Linked DNA regions of Homo sapiens: region 2 is linked to region 1. A link means that fine-mapping ties the variant in region 1 to the expression of a gene that starts in the linked region. Tissue or cell type: whole blood. Region 1 holds a variant in brackets; the other region holds the start of a gene. All regions are shown on one strand. Distances are from middle to middle.

The links. PIP is the estimated chance that this variant, and not a neighbour inherited with it, causes the effect.
Region 2: SVIL starts here. The variant in region 1 is fine-mapped to the expression of SVIL in whole blood (INTERVAL, PIP 0.94).

The regions. Positions count from the first base shown.
Region 1 is chr10:29,799,947-29,808,053 of GRCh38, reverse strand. No RefSeq gene overlaps it. Among named protein-coding and RNA genes, the nearest start is that of SVIL, 170 kb to the right of the region's middle. The variant A/C (reference allele first, on the strand shown) is at 4,219.
Region 2 is chr10:29,630,148-29,638,254 of GRCh38, reverse strand. It overlaps SVIL (supervillin), which reads left to right and starts at 3,284. Exons shown (of 38, transcript NM_021738.3): 1 at 3,284-3,835. RefSeq lists a silencer at 3,181-3,475.

The sequences.
Region 1 (8,107 bases):
TAAGATGAATCTTAAAAGGTAAAAATTAGCGAGCCCTGGTTACTAGAGTGCCTAGCTTTTCCTTTGCTTTAAATGTTACATTAGAAATTGTTGATCAGCTCCTCAGCATTTCTTCTATGAATTCCAATGGTGAGGACCTCATTGCGGTCAAAATTACAGCAAAAAATTAGAATTCAAGAATATCACTAAACATACTGCTTATTGAACAGTATTACTGTATAGTCATCAGTAACTTAAAAAAAAATCTTCCAAAACCACCCAGATTACAGGCAGGACAGAAAATAGGGATGGCCCTAAGAGGTCATTAGTAGAGGGTGTGTCCTTTGTCTGAGAGGGAGACTCACTTCTCACTTATGTGCTGAGACGCAAAAATTGCCTGAGGAAATTCCAGAGAGGTTGATCTGTGTTTCTGGGTGTGTGCTTCTCATTGTTACTGTCCAATGTCTGATTCCCATACTTCTAGGCAGAGGGTGAATTTCATATCCCCACTTCCCTGAAGTTTGACATGACCATATGACTTGTTCTGGCTGGTGCACTATGAACAGAAGCCATGTGTTTTTCCACCTCCTTTTTCCTCTCTGCAACTGTGGCTGGAGAAGGTAACCGGTGTCCACCCAGCAATGTGTGCTCAACATGGTTTATGAAGGAGAAATCTCTCTCTCCCTCTCTCTCTCATTCTCTATCTGTCTCTATCTCTTCTCCTTTCTCTCTCTCCATCTCTTTTCTCTCTTCTCCTTTCTCTCTCTCTCTTCTCTCTATCTTTATCTCTTTATCTCTCCTCCCTTCTACCTCTTCTCTTTTCTCTCTCCTCCTCTCTCTTTCTTCCTCTCTCTCTCTTTCTTTCTCTTTCTCTCTCTCTATAACTCTTCTCCTTTCTCTCTCTCTCTCTCTCTCTCTCTCTGTCTCTGTCTCACATAAGCCACTGAGATTTGGAGGGTTTTGTAAGTGAAGCATAGCCTACCTAATAGTTTCTACTATAGGGTGCAAATGCAGTGAACACTGTGTGTGTGTGTGTGTGCACATGCTTTCTTTATCATACCTTATATTTTACTCTGCATTCTGTGTATCACTATATAGTACTAATTAATGAGGGTTTGCTGTGACTTTACCTACATTGTCTGCTTCCAGTCTCACCATAAGTCATGTGTAAAGTTCTAGTATTATCATCTCCATTTCATATTTGAGACAAACAGAGGCTCGGAGAGGTTAAGTAACTTGCCCAAGATCACACAGCTGGTGTGAGGCAGAGCTAGGACCAGAACCCAGGTAGTTGGATTCTGGTGAACAGCGTTAACTATTAAGCTAGGCTATCTTTGTACTGCAGGAGTGACCCACCTCTGACATTTCAGGAGTTCTATTCCCACTTAAATTGGTTTACTAAACGTTGCTTAAAAATAACCTTTGTTTCAGAGGGCAATTCAATAAAACAGGAATTTCAAGGCTGAGTCTGTGAGGTTTACAAATTAGTGTGTTGATTCAGAGTATGGGTCATTGTTTCTCTGTAGCATTAGTAACAATATTGATGTTTTAGAGTTTTTTCTCCAGAACCAAAAACCCTTCACAAATTGCTCTGTTTATTAGAGCAAAATTTGCCTTCTGAATCACTTCTAATTGGCTAAACAATTACATAGAACCATCTGAGAGCTTCCCAGAATGTTTCTGTTTGAGGCTGAACCCATGAGCAGCTCTCTTCCAATGAAGTTGGCTCCGTGGGGAAGGAACTGGCCTTGTCTCAACCCCCAGACTCAGGGGATCCTTCCTTCTTGCTCCCATTCTTGTAGCCACAGCTCCTGAGTGCAGTGCGGGTCAGGCCCTCTTCAAGGGATTCGTGTGAGTTCATCCTGGCAGGAGCCCTCTGAGGTTGGTACTATCAATCCTAATTTCTCAGATGGGGAAACTGAGGCATGGAACAATTAAGGAACTTTCCCACAGCTGCAGACCTCATGGGCAGCAAGGCCAGGGGTTGACCGAGTGGTCTGGCCTGGGATCTAGGGCTCCCCACCCTGCCTCACCCCTGTCCCCTGCCCCTGTTTCCAGGGACCTGCTGGAGGTCTCCTGGGATAAGGTGACATTGCCTCTCTCTTCCACGGCCCCCAATCATCTTCCTTCTTGTGTTTCGCACGGACCTTCCTCCCCTGAGGCTGAATATGGGATTCCTGTGAGATTTTCTCAGCATGAGGGCCTCGGAGAAGATATGGACCACAAAAAGTGTGGACAGTAAACTGATGTCCCTGCAGAATGCACCCAGCAAGCTTCTTCCCTTCCTAGACCTTTCAGAGAGTCCCAAAATGTTTCTTTTGGCATTATGCTTAATTTGGGGTCAAAATTGAGAGACACTAGGGTAAAAGCGGCTTTCTCTGATTATCATGGTTAGGCAATGCCTATGGCATTGACAGTAGGGTGATTTTTTTATCCTGCCCCTCAAATCTTGGCATGCTGTAGAACTCTGATGAAATTTAATATCAAGGGAAGCCTTGAAGCAGAAAACTAGGTTATTAAAGGGCAGCCTTGGGGTGGTGTGGCAGACACTGTGACATGCCTTCTATATCTCCCTTCATGGACAGACTTGTTGCCCCCACCACTGGGCATGCTGGTGGCTGGGTGTCAGCTGTCAGCTGCCCCAACTCAGGACTCATCTTAGCTGAAGAGCGGCTTTACCCTAAACCACAGAGGGATACAGGCCTGACCAGCTTGGTCCAACACTGGAGAACATTCTAGCTCCAGGGCTCCCCACAGGGCTGCCCAAGGCCATCATCAGATTTCATCACAGTTTGACTTCTCCCTCGCACTCTCCTGCCTTCTGTCTCCCTGCCACGGGAGTTGATCTCAAGCACACGCCTCAGACACATGCTACACACTAAACTCTGCTTCAGAGGCCACCACTCCAAGGGCATGAAGCATTGGGACAGCCCCAGTGGTGACAGGCAGTGTATTAGTCCGTTTTCACGCTGTTGATAAAGACATATCTGAGAGTGGGTAATTTATAAAGAAAAAGAGGTTTAATTGACTCACAGTCCCACATGGCTGGGGAGGCCTCACAATCATGGCAGAAGGTGAAAGGCACATCTTACATGGTGGCAGACAAGGGAGAAAATGAGACCCAAGCAAAAGGGGAAACCTCTTATAAAAATCAGATCTCAAGAGACTTACTCACTACCACAAGAACAGTATGGGGGAAACTGCCCCCATATTCAATTATCTCCCACTGGGTCCCTCCCACAACACTTGGGAATTATGGAAGTTACAATTCAAGGTGAGATTTGGGTGAGGACGCAGCCAAACCTTATCAGGCAGGATGTGTGAAGTAGGTAGCAGCCAGCGCTACCACAGGTGGGTGGGTGTGTGGGTTTTTCTCTCTGCAGGGATGCTCTGCTGAGAGGGAGGATGGGGACCTAAATCCAGCCTGTTCTCCACTAACCACATGCTGAGCCCTGTGTGGGGGCTGCACCTGCCAGGAGAAAGCACGCCTTTTGCAATTGCACCACAATACTGTACAAACTCTCACAGTCCTGGCAGCAGCCCTCCTGTCTTTGCTTTGGAGAAATAGTGAGAAGCTTAAGAGAAGTGAATTTTCTCAGATTCCCTGTGGCCTTTCTGGTTCCAGCCCCTGCAGCATGCAGCACAGGGAAGTGCAGCTGTAGCCTAGTTGTTTTTGCTTCACTGGATACCCTGGGCCCCAGGGCAAAGAGCCAACATATTATGCCCTCTGAGTCACAGAATCAAAACAGGATTCTCTGTTTCCAGAACTTAGTCATGGTGGCACTGAGGACATTTAAGGAAGACAAACATTAAGCGTCACATTGTATATCCTCAAAAGCTCTCTGCTTCTTGCATTTTTATTTGACTCCAGAGTATTTCCTCACTTTTCTGTACCCAACTGTACCCTCTGGCACCAACCAGAGACTTTGAAACCCTCAGTTTCAGCCATCATCAGTGAGGACAGAGGACGTCTGAAACCCAGACCATTTCCTGAGCTGCAATCACAAAGTTCTTTATATAATTACATATGTGGCACTGACTTCAGTTTCTATCATTGAGAGCTTCTTCCATGAGACTCAAACCACTGGTCACAGGTAAGCAAAAAGAAATGCATTTCCTTTGCCAACAACAGCTGCCTATGCCCACCTAATAATCACTTCTAGTTGAAGATTACCTTCTGGTAACTCTCCAGACAGACCCCAGGAAGCAGTTGGTTGGAGAGGAACCCTTCAAGTTGAA[A/C]CTGGGTTTCAGCGTGTCCAGATGACTCATGTAAATACACAAGCTCTGAGGCATCTCCCCGACCCCCAACAAAAATCTCCTCAATCACTCAGTTTGCTTTCCACTCATTTCCTGCCCCTTTCCCTTCCTCTACTTCCTCTTTTTCTACTTCTTTCGCCTTCTTTCCCCATTCTGACAGAGGAAGACTGATCAAAGCTTTGTTTGTTATTTATTTATACACAGTCGTGTTCTAGAAGGGCTTCTTGAAAGAGTGCATAAAACTCAACTAGGTTGTATAAGGGTAAAGTAGGTCAAAAGGAAAAGGACAAACACGTGCTATAAAAATGCATGGCCCAGGAATAAGACAAAGAATGACCAATACAAGCCAAGCCAAGCTCTGGTGCTCCATGTTTCTGTGAGCCAGAGGCACGTTACAGCTGTGGATGAGCACCTCTGTGATTGGTTTCCCTTCCTCTGCCGATCACGTCATCGTCCAATGCCATGGCTGTAAACACTGTTTGCACTGATGACTCTTATAGCCAAGACTGTACCCATTATTTAGAAATCTAATGACAGATGTTATTAAGGGCTGCAAGGCACCCTATGAAAAGGCTACACTTACCACATTCCCTTGCAACCGTGTAATTAAGTTCTGAACAATGACATGTCAGACAGCATGTAAAGAAGGCTCCTCACTCACACCTGTAAGCCCTGCACTTTGAGAGGCCAAGGCAGGCAAATCTCTTGAGCTCAGGAGTTCGAGACCAGCCTGGGCAACATAGCAAAACCTCATCTCTACAAAAAATACAAGAATTAGCCAGGTGTGGTGGTGTGCACCTGTAGTCTTGGCTACTTAGGGGGCTGAGGCAGCAGGATCACTTGAGCCCATGAGGTCAAGGCTGCAGTGAGCTGTGTTCACAACACTGCACTCCAGCCTGGGCAACAGAGGAAAACCCTGTCTTCAAAAAAAAAAAAGAAAAAAAAAGAAGGCTCTTCAAAGGGACCTGCAGCTGCAGCTTTGATCCTTGCCACAGTCTTCCTACTACCTGGGATGTGGAATTAATGATAAAAGCTCCATAGTCCCTACTTACTGGACCATGGGTAACCTTAAGGGTGGCAGACACATGCTGAGGATGATAAAGCTAAAAGACAAGTGCCTGCTTCCTTGCCAATACTGGACCCCCCCCCCCACCCCATATCAGCCCCTACTTGCCTAGCTCCAGATTTTCATTAAGTGGAAAAGAAGAAAAACCTGGGCTTATGTAAATCACTGATATTTAGGATTGTTTGTTATGTGTAGCCATCTGTATTAATCTGTTTTCACCCTGCTGATAAAGACATAACTGAGACTGGGAAGAAAAAGAGGTTTAATTGGACTTACAGTTCCACTTGGCTGGGGAGGCCTCAGAATCATGGTGGGAGGCAAAAGGCACTTCTTGCATGGCAGTGGCAAGAGAAAATGAGGAAGCAAAAGCAGAAAGCCCTGATAAACCCTTCAGACCTCATGAGACTTATTCACTATCGTGAGAATAGCATGGGAAAGACCGGCCTCCACAATTTAATTTGCTCCTCCTGGGTCCCTACTAAAACACGTGAGAATTTAGAGATACACTACAATTCAAGTTGAGATTTGGGTAGGGACACAACCAAACCATGTCACCATCTAATTCTAAATCATTCTTTCTCAAATTTTCATCTGTAACAATAACCTTTTCAGCTACATATTTGAAGTTTCTACTTGAGTGTTGAATTGGAGTCTTAAACTGAACAGGATCCAGACAGAACACTTGATCTTTTTCTCCCCTTTCTTCCCCAAACTTGGTCCTTCCAGAATCTTCCCCCTCTGAACTAAATGGTACCCCCATATGCCCAGTTGCTCAGGACAAACACCAAGGAGTCATTCTTGATTCTGTTTTACTTCATTCCCACACATCAGCAAGTCCTATGGGCTCCACCTCCAAAATACACCCCACACCCATCACCTCTCACCATTTCCCAGGATCTCACCATTGTAGCCGCTGTCATCTTTCACCTGGGGTATCTCAGCAGCCTTCCAGCTGCTCTGATTACACTCATCTCACTGAAATCCTCCCCCCACAGTGGCCAGAGTGATCTTCCAGAAAATGTAAATCAGATCATATCACTCGTCTGCTTAAATCCTCCAATGCCTCCCACTGAAGTGAGGATAAAATCCAAACTACTATGGCTCACAAAACTCCAAGTGAGCCAGTCCCTACTACCCATTACCCTACTTTTTCATGAGCTAGACTCCTAGCCCTTCTTGCCTTTCTTACTTGATATAGTTTGGATGTTTGTTGCCTCCAAATCTCATGTTGAAATGTAATCCCTGGCCACATGTGGTGGCTCATGCCTGTAATCCTAGCACTTTGGGAGGCAGGAGTGGAAGGATCCCCTGAGCCCAGGAGTTTGAGACCAGCTTGGACAACATGGCAAAACCCCATATCTACAAAAAAAAAAAAAATTATCCAGGTGTGGTGATGCATGCCTATAGTCCCAGTAACTCAAGAGGCTAAGGTGGGAGGATTGCTTGAGCCTAGAGTTTCCAGGCTACAGTGAGCTTTGATCGCACCATTGCACTCCAGCATGGATGACAGAATGAGACCTATCTCAAAAAAAGAAAAAAAAAGAATGTAATCCCCAGCTTGGAGGTGGGGCCTAGTGGGAGGTTTTAGGGGAAGATGCCTCATGAATGTCTTGGTGTTGGTGCTGTCCTCATGATAGTGAGTGAGTTCTCATGAGATCTGGTTATCTAAAATGCTGTGGCACCTTCTGCCTCCCTCTTGCTCCTGCTCTTGCCATGTGATGTTCCTGCTCCAGTTTCACCTTCTGCCATGATTGTAAGCTTCCTGAGGGCCTCCCCAGAAGCTAAGCAAATGCTGGTGCCATGCTAGCACAGCCTGCAAAACCATGAGTCAATGAAACCTCCTTTCTCCACAAATTACCCAGCTTCAGTTATTTCTTTTTAGCAATGCAAAATGACCTAACAAAGAAAATTGGTACCAAGAAGTGGGGTGTTGCTAGAAAGATACCTGGAAATGTCGAAGCAACTTTGGAACTGGATAATGATCAGAGGCTAGAAGAGTTTGGAGGGCTCAGGAAAAGACAGGAAGATGAGGGAAAGTTTGGAACTTCTTAGAGACTAGTTAAAATGGTTGTGACCAAAATACTGATAGAAATATGGCCAGCAAAGGCCAGGCTGACAAGGCCTCAGATGGAAATGAGAAACTTATGGGAAACTGGAATAAAGGTCCCCCACATATGGACATTTAGGTTATTTCTATTATTTTGTAATTATAAAAAAATACTACAATGCATCCTTTTACATGTATTTGGTACATACTTGGAAGTATATCAGTTGGACAAATTCCTTGGAGTTGAATTGCTGCACCAAGGCTGTATGCATTTTACATTTTGATAGATATGATGGAATTACCCTTTGGTCCATTTTCCATGGGGTCACCCCTTAGGATAGTTGAGATGGATCATCTAGTGACACAAGCAAAGACTTCCCACGCAGGGAGCTGTTCATCTCCTATCAGGCCAGGGCCTTCCAGAGAGTTCTTAAAATCACACTTTACACTCCTGGTAAGCGAGGCTTCTAATTTCTGCCCTATCTTACCTGGAGCAGGTATCTTCTTGTCTTTTCTGCCCATTTGTATATAATTCATTTCTAATTCTTTTCAACACTTCCATTGTAACGAGAGACTTAAACGTATGCTATTCGGGTCTAGCACGAACATTCTTTACCTACCTTGCATCTATTTTCAAATCTCATCCTTCCTAACCAACTTTATGCTGTATTTATTTGGCCAGTATTCTATGATTTATAAGGCTTAGAGAGCCTGTCATCTTTTTTCATCAATGGATGACTTAAAAAACAAACAAACAA
Region 2 (8,107 bases), 170 kb after region 1:
CCTGACCTCAGGTAATCCATCCGCCACAGCCTCCCAAAGTTCTGGGATTACAGGTGTGAGCCACCCCGCCCTGCTTAAACTTTTAATTTTGAGATAATTATAGATTCAGATGTAGTTGTAAGAAATAGTACAAAGTGATCATGAGGGCTTTTTACCCAGTTTCTCCAGTGATAACATCTTGCAAAGCTATACAATAGTATCACAACCAGGATATTGACACTGATGTGGTCAATCCAATAGAAGAGTTCCAGAACAGGGGTCTCTCATGTGGCCCTGTTAAACCACCTCATCCCCATCCCTAACCTCTAACAACTCCCATCTCTTCTCCATTTCTATAATGTTGTCATCTGGGAAATGCTATGTAAGTGTACTCGTATAGTATCTAACATTTTGGGATTGGCTTTCTGTCACTCAGCATAATTTAATTCCCTGGATTCTTATCCAGGTCGTGGAACGTACTAATAATTTGTTCCTTTTTATTGTTGAGTAGTATTCCATGGTATGGATGTACCACAATGAGGATTGGGTAGAAGCTCATTGCTTTTGCCTAGGGGTGTCTAATTGCTCTAGCACTGTTTGTTGAATGGCACAGAAATCAGTTTGGCATATTCATGTGGGCCTGTCTCTGGGTTCTCCAGTCTGTTCCACTGATCTATGTTATGTGTCTCTCTTTTTGCCAATGCTGTGTTGTCTTGATTACTGTAGTTATCCAGTAGGCCTTAATATGGGATAGATTCATTGCTCTAACTTTTTTCTTCTTTTGAGACGGAGTCTCACTCTGTGGCCCAGGCTGGAGTGCAGTGGCATGATCTTGGCTCACTGCAACCTCTGCCTCCCAGGATTGGGTTCAAGCGATGCTCCTGCCTTAGCCTCCCTAGTAACTGGGATTACAGGTGTGCACCACCACGCCTGGCTAATTTTTCTGTATTTTTGATAGAGACAGTGTTTCACCATGTTCATTAGGCTGGTCTCGAACTCCTGACCTCAGGTGATCCACCCGCCTCGGCCTACCAAAGTGCTGGGATTACAGGCATGAGCCACCACGCCCAGACTAACTTTTTTCTTCTTTTTCAAGATGGTTTTTAGCTATTCTAGGGCCTGTACCTTTACTATAAATTTTAGAATATCTGCCAAAAATCACTGTGAGGCCAGGCAGGGTGGCTCACACCTGTAATCCTAGCACTTAAGAAGGCCGAAGTGGGAGGACAGCTGGAGCCCAGGAGTTCAAGACAAGCCTGGCCAACCTAATGAGACTCCATCTCTACAAAAACTAAGAAATTAAAAAATTAGCCCAGTGTGGTGGTGCACATCTGTAGCCCCAGATATTCAGGAGGCTGAGGCAGGAGGACTGCCTCCTGGGGAGGTTGAGGCTGCAGTGAGCCATGATTGCACACCTCTACTCCAGCCTGGACAACAGAGCAAGACCATGTCTCAAAAAAACAAAACAAAACAAAACAAAACAAAAAAACCTTGCAAGATTTTGATAGGAATTTTGTTAATCTGTAGATCAGTTTGGGGACAATTGACATCTTTTGTGTGTTGATTTTTCTTCCAATTCATGATTATCATCATTGGAAAGAAGTGAGTATGATGAGTCTTCTAAGCCAGGCAGATAGCAAAAAAATTAGGAAAGTAAATGGATTGCACAGGAAGAATTAACTGGGATTTAAATAATCAAAGACAGAAAGGATATATAAAAGAAGTGACGAAGGAGATTTACCCTATTAGACTCCAGTGTATTAATCTAGGACAGTTTGGTTGCTATGGGGAAGCAGTGTGCAAAAACTTAAGAGGCACACAAAAGACTGATGTTTATTTTGTGGGAGTGAATCTTTTTTTAGGAAGGAAATAGCACTATTGTGGTAACAGTGATTCATTTTCTCCTCCTATCTTCTCTTTACAGAGAAGACCCAAATAGTGAACTGTTTCATGTAAGTTTTTATTTATTTTTGCCCTACTTTTCTCTAGGGAGGGGCTTACCACAGCTTATAAAAATACGTAAAACAAGATCAAATAAACTTTAAAATGAGGAAAAAGCCAATATGGTCCAAGGGAAAAGAAGATCAGGGTCAGGACTGAGATTAGGATGCAAAAGCCATGCTATGAAATTTTGTTTGTTTGTTATCTTGAGATGGGTAAAAAAAAAAAAAAACAGTTGACTGGGACAAATACCCCTAGCACAAAACAGTCATGAAGCCAATGTTTAATTATTATACCTGTCATCTTTTCACCTGGCCTCAGGACTGTCCTCTTAGGGAGAGGCATTGTTCTGTAGGGTTAATTAGTAACAGGAATTTAGATCCTGCTTTGAGAGGCCTCCTGTGCTGGCCGAAGCAGCTGGTGGTCTGAGAACCCTGACACCCAGAGGCATACCACTGGGAGGCCCCGCGCAGCACACAGCTTTTGCTGTACTCCAGCCCAAGTCTTATGGGGTTTGTGGTTTATACTGAAGTTGGTGCAGACAATTAAGACTCTCTGTTCTTGGTACCGACAGGGACAGAGACCTACAATTGTAAGTATTTTGTAAACAGGGTTGTGATATTTGTTTGAGTGTATTCAACATGTCAGTGGCCTTTTAATGTTTAAAAAAATGCATATGGCCATTTAAGAAGTGGTTGTGCTTCATAGTTAATATTTTTTTCATTAGGTTAGGTTCATCTGGTTTTTCAGTGAGGTGAGCTACCTGAGAGCCATAGGAAGATAGATCTTGCCAGTTCAGAGGACTGACTTTGGCTTTAAGAGAAAATATTTGTGTCATTTTCGAGAAAGTACTTCCAGCACAATGCTTTCTTCTGATGATTCATTTTCTACAGTTATTGGAAGTGGGAAGAAATCCACAGAGGTTACAGAATTTGTAAACTTGTAGAGACATGTGCCATTATATCATGCTGTTTCATAGATGTGTATGTCTGTTAGTTACTTTTCGGGCATTCATTGTATATATGTCTGTTACTTACTTTTGGGGTGTTCAGTGTCTGAGCTTTGTCAACGATTGTGTGCTCTTTTTTTAGCCTAAAAAAACTAAGTTAGAGAAATGTTTGCTCATCCAAATCTGTATTGTTGTAGCTTATTCAGTAGACTGCTGTTGTATTTTTAATTTCTCTATACAACAAGCTGAAAGACAGTGTGGACAACCTAATTGCATTTGAAGTAGCTGCTGGCCAGGCCTGCTGCAACAGCTGATGGGCTCCTCTGAATTTCCAGGGCTATTTCTGGTAGATGAGCTGGTATCAAGGCTCTCGAGTTCAGGCCATAAAAGGCCCGTCCCATGTGAAGTTGCTTCACTGCTCTGACTGCGTCCTCCCCAGGCTGAAGTGTCCTCAGGTTTCATGTGGATTTGCCCAGTAATGGATGGCTCCACCGAGGCCAGGTTGGGGAAGTTCAGCCTCGAGGACACTAGGGGACGAAAAACTTCAAAAAGAAGACTCTTTTTATTAATATTTTGGCGTTCTTTTTGGAGAGGAACTTTTGGGATGTAGCCTTTACCTGTTTCCTGAATTTGACATCCAAAAAGCCTTTTGGAAAACACCATTCTAAATTTATCCTGTTCTGAATCATCATCGCTTCTGATAGATGCAGTTGCTTGCTGACATCGTGATCTTTGATTTTGTACAACGCTATTTGGGCTAACTTTTGGGATTTTACTTTGTGCTTAGAATTTGAAAGTAGTATTCATTGGAAAGAGACTCCAAGAAAATACTCGAAGACATCAAAAGCTGGATTCGAGGGTATAACGTGTTTTGTTTTGTTTTTTAAATTAGAAAAATAAGGAATTGCAGTGTGATTTTCTTTCCCCCTTTAACTTAGAGGAACGAGGATTATACAGAAATTTGAAGTAAGTGAAAAATCTTCCTATAAATCTAAATGCAGTAGGTTTTTTTTTGTTGTTTTTGTTTTTGCTTTTTTTTAAGTGCCATCTGTCTGAGCATGTTTCCTGAGGATTTGTTGACTTCAGTCATTGGAAAATTCCTGCCAGCGTTTGCCAGTTACTGCAGCCATTCCTGTAGATACCCTTGGGCATATTTCTTGGGTTGAGAAGGATTGGACTTTTTTTTTTTTTTAAAGGATTTACTTTATGGTAGAGAAAGGTTTAATACTAAAAATTTGATTAATATAACTTAGTACATTCTGTCTAAATGTTAGCACTTAAAGTCTTGGAATTAAAGTATATTCACAATGCAACGTACTTTAATAATCGTAGCACAAGTATGGGGGTGGAGTTCAGAAGGGCAAGTTTTATTTCACTGCCATTATAATTCATGTAAAAATAGAAAATCACCAGTGATCCTTTTGCATAATCTTTGTTCTGAGGGTTCTTTGCCTTGGTACTCTCATTCTTCAGGGCTTGATTTCTAGAACTTGCGATGTTCCAGAATTTATGAGAAAAACCTCACTGTAGGTTCTAGAGTTTGAACTGCATTTTATTTTTAAATTCTCCAAGAAAAAATACTGCATCAGCCTTTTAAAGCCCTGGAGATTGCTATGGTCTCTTTGTAATTTAGCTCAGTGATTTGTTTCTGCTGAAAAACAGCAGTGAACTCTAGAACATAGAAGGCTTATTTGACGTGTTGCTTCTTTGAAAAAAAAAAAAGATTATTTCTTTATACCACATCAGATGGACAAGTACGGGCAGTCATTATTTTTACCAGGTAGGAAAACAGAGTATTTATAGAGAAGAACTTCATCGGTGAATACTGCGAGGGTTCTTCACCGGAGATAGTGTGGCAACCCTAGGGGGCGTTTGAAAATGCATGGGGGTGTTTCAGGTTTTCTCAATGACTCACTGGCATTTGGGAGGATGTGGTTAAGAATTGTAAATGCCCAATTTACATGGTGTAGGGGACAGTCCCATACAGCATTACCCTGGCCAAACTGCTGGTGGTATCCCCTGTTGAGTAAAACTGCAGGATATAAATTGTACCCTCTGTCTCCAAAGAAGAGCAGCCCAGTGCCAGGCAGATGTGTGCTGTCTCTTCTCACCAAAACCAGTGATGTCTTTTTTTTTTTTTTTTTTTTTTGAGATGGAGTCTCGTGCTGTCACCCAGGCTGGAGTGCAGTGGCACGATCTCGGCTCACTGCAACCTCCACCTCCCAGGTTCAAGTGACTCTCCTTGCCTCAACCTCCCAAGTAACTGGGATTACAGGCACCTGGCACCATATCCAGCTAATTTTTTTTTGTATTTTTAGTAGAGACGGGGTTTCACTATGTTGGCCAGGCTGATCTTGAACTCCTGACCTCGTGATCCGCCCACCTTGGGCTCCCAAAGTGCTGGGATTATAGGCGTGAGCCCCTGCACCCGGCACCCGGTGATGTCTTGAGGATCCAGGGCATCAAGTGTGCACTAGTGTCAGAGAATTTGTCTTACAATGGAAACTTTGGAGTCTATACTCTGTGTGTGTGTGTGTGTGTGTGTTAAAGATAATTTATTTGGTCACCTTGATCACTGGATGAGGCTGATGTTATACAAGCTATTGTAGTACATTAGGTGCCTTCCTGCCTACCTTTATTTAGTACTATTGGTGCATTTAATTTTGCCACATGCATAGTCTTCCAAGTGAAATTTGGTTAATGCGCTCAGCTTGCAGTGGACATCAGTCAGCCATTCAACAAACAGTTCTTTATCTTTGCTTCTACTTTGGAGACAGACTGTTTTGTGATAAACAGACTTCTGGAAGACTTTGGAGTTCAATTCAGAGTGAACATCTTTGGCAACACCTGGGGTTATATAGTATTCTTTTTTTCTTTTTTCTTTTTTTTTTTTTTGAGATGGAGTCTTGCTCTGTTGCCCAGGCTGGAGTGCAATGACACAATCTCAGCTCACTGCAACCTCCACCTCTTGGGCTGAAGTGATTCTCCTGCCTCAGCCTCCCTACTAGCTGGGATTACAGGCATATGCCACTGCGCCCAGCTAATTTTTGTATTTTTAGTAGAGACAGGGTTTCATCATGTTGCCCAGGTTGGTCTTGAACTCCTGACCTCAGGTGATCTACCAGCGCTCGGCCTCCCAAAGTTCTGGGATTACAGGCATGAGCCACCACACCCGGCGAGTTATTTAATATTCTACAGTTGAGGAATTGCATCCAAAGGAAAGGGCCCTTGGGATTTTTATAAGGATGTCTGGTGAGCTCCAGCATGCAGGGCTCTCGGGCTACATGGAGCGTTATGGAGAGTAAGCTGCTAGGAGCCTTGTGATTGTTAGGGTACAAAGGCAGCCTTGGAATCATCTCCTGAATCTGCAGCTGCCTGGGATTTTAGGACACTCATTGCAATTTTATGTTAAAGCGCTGATCTCAGGGTGCCTTGCTGTGACTGGGAGTATCCGTAGGTCTAGAACTTTCCAGCAGTTCTGGGCTTCATTGATTTGTGACTCAACTAGGAATCTTCTGGTCACCCTTGACTCCTCTCCCTTTAGGTCCCCGAGGCCTCTGCCCCACCACCTCCTCTTAAGCCTCGCCATCTTTTTTATTTTTTATTTTTTTGAGATGGAGTCTCACTCTGTCAGCCAAGCTGGAGTGCAATGGCACAATCTCGGCTCACTGCAATCCCTGCCTCCCGGGTTCAAGGGATTCTCCTGCCACAGCCTCCTGAGTAGCTGGGATTACAGGTGTCCGCCACCACGCCCGGCTAATTCTTGTATATTTAGTAAAGATGGGGTTTCACCATGTTGGTCAGGCTGGTCTCGAAATCCTGACCTCATGATCTGCCCACCTCGGCCTCCCAAAGTGCTGGGATTACAGGTGTCCGCCACCACGCCCGGCTAATTCTTGTATATTTAGTAAAGATGGGGTTTCACCATGTTGGTCAGGCTGGTCTCGAAATCCTGACCTCATGATCTGCCCACCTCGGCCTCCCAAAGTGCTGGGATTACAGGCATGAGCCACCGCGCCTGGCCTCGCCTCGCCATCTCTTACCTGGGCTACTGCTTTGCCCTTAATGGATCCCTTGGCCCTCGGTTTCTCCTCCGTCTGGTCTAGCCACAGAATGACCTTCCTAAACAAAGATCTCATCTTGCACTCGGCCAGGGCCAAACCCTCATCGTTCCTCACTGCTTACATGCAAAAGCCTGGGCTCTGTAGCCTCCCCTTCAGGGTCTTTCATGCCCCTGGAGTTCTGTTGGCAAGTCTCCCCAAAATGTTGTCTTCTCTTGCCTGCCAGGGAAGCAATATCAAAGGAGATGTGCCAGAAGCTTCCTCTGACATGCCTCTGGCCTCCTGGGCCTCGACTCCAGCCTGTACTCTAGGGCTGCAGTCACTAGGTCCTGGTGGCCCTTTCCTTGGCAGCAGGGTACCCAGTGAGGTGCTTGGGTCTCACTTCTCTTACCACCCCCAGGGTCTAGCCCAGTGGGCAATCCAGAAATGTGAGTTGTTTGAACGGATTGAATTGTAACGACTTGTGGGTTCTTCATATCGAAATTTGGCTGTGATCCATCCAGTACTTTTGCCCTCATCCTATATTACTCACAGTAGAAGCTGGTGTTCTGTGTTATAAGTTCTCCTTTTTTTTCCTTCATCTATGACAATGCAAGCAGAAACGTTCGTGTTGCGGTAACAAGTCCGATGGGGTTTCTGTATATGGGGTTTCTGTACACGTGCTTTTGCCAACCGGGAAATTAAGGTGTGCCGCATGAAGTCAGTCACTTCATTATTGGAACTTTGCCTAAAATGAAGAAACTCATCTAGTGGTGCAATTTGACCTAAGTGTTTTACCCATACAGTCAACTTCAACTTGGGTCACACATCTCAGGAGCAGTTTGCACTGTTGATCTCAGGGGCTCTTTAGTATTGGTTCAGAGAGATCTCTGTCCCTCTTAGAGACACTCCCTATTGTAGGAGGTTTTGAAAGAGGCATTCTTTTTCCTCCTAATGTGCTTGTCCCCTTCTGAAAGTTGATCCTTTAATCCCAAACAAGTTTATAACCTATGTCTAACTGGTTTTTGTGTAAATATAGTAAAAGAAATAGTTTCCATATTTGCTTTGGGATCATTGGTCTGCCCATGTCACAGCCCTGGGTACATTCATTTCAGTCCATATTTTTGGGGCACTTTCCCTGTGCAGAGCTCCGGGTGGGTCCTGTGGGATGCAGAAGCCTATAGCGTATTCCCTCTCA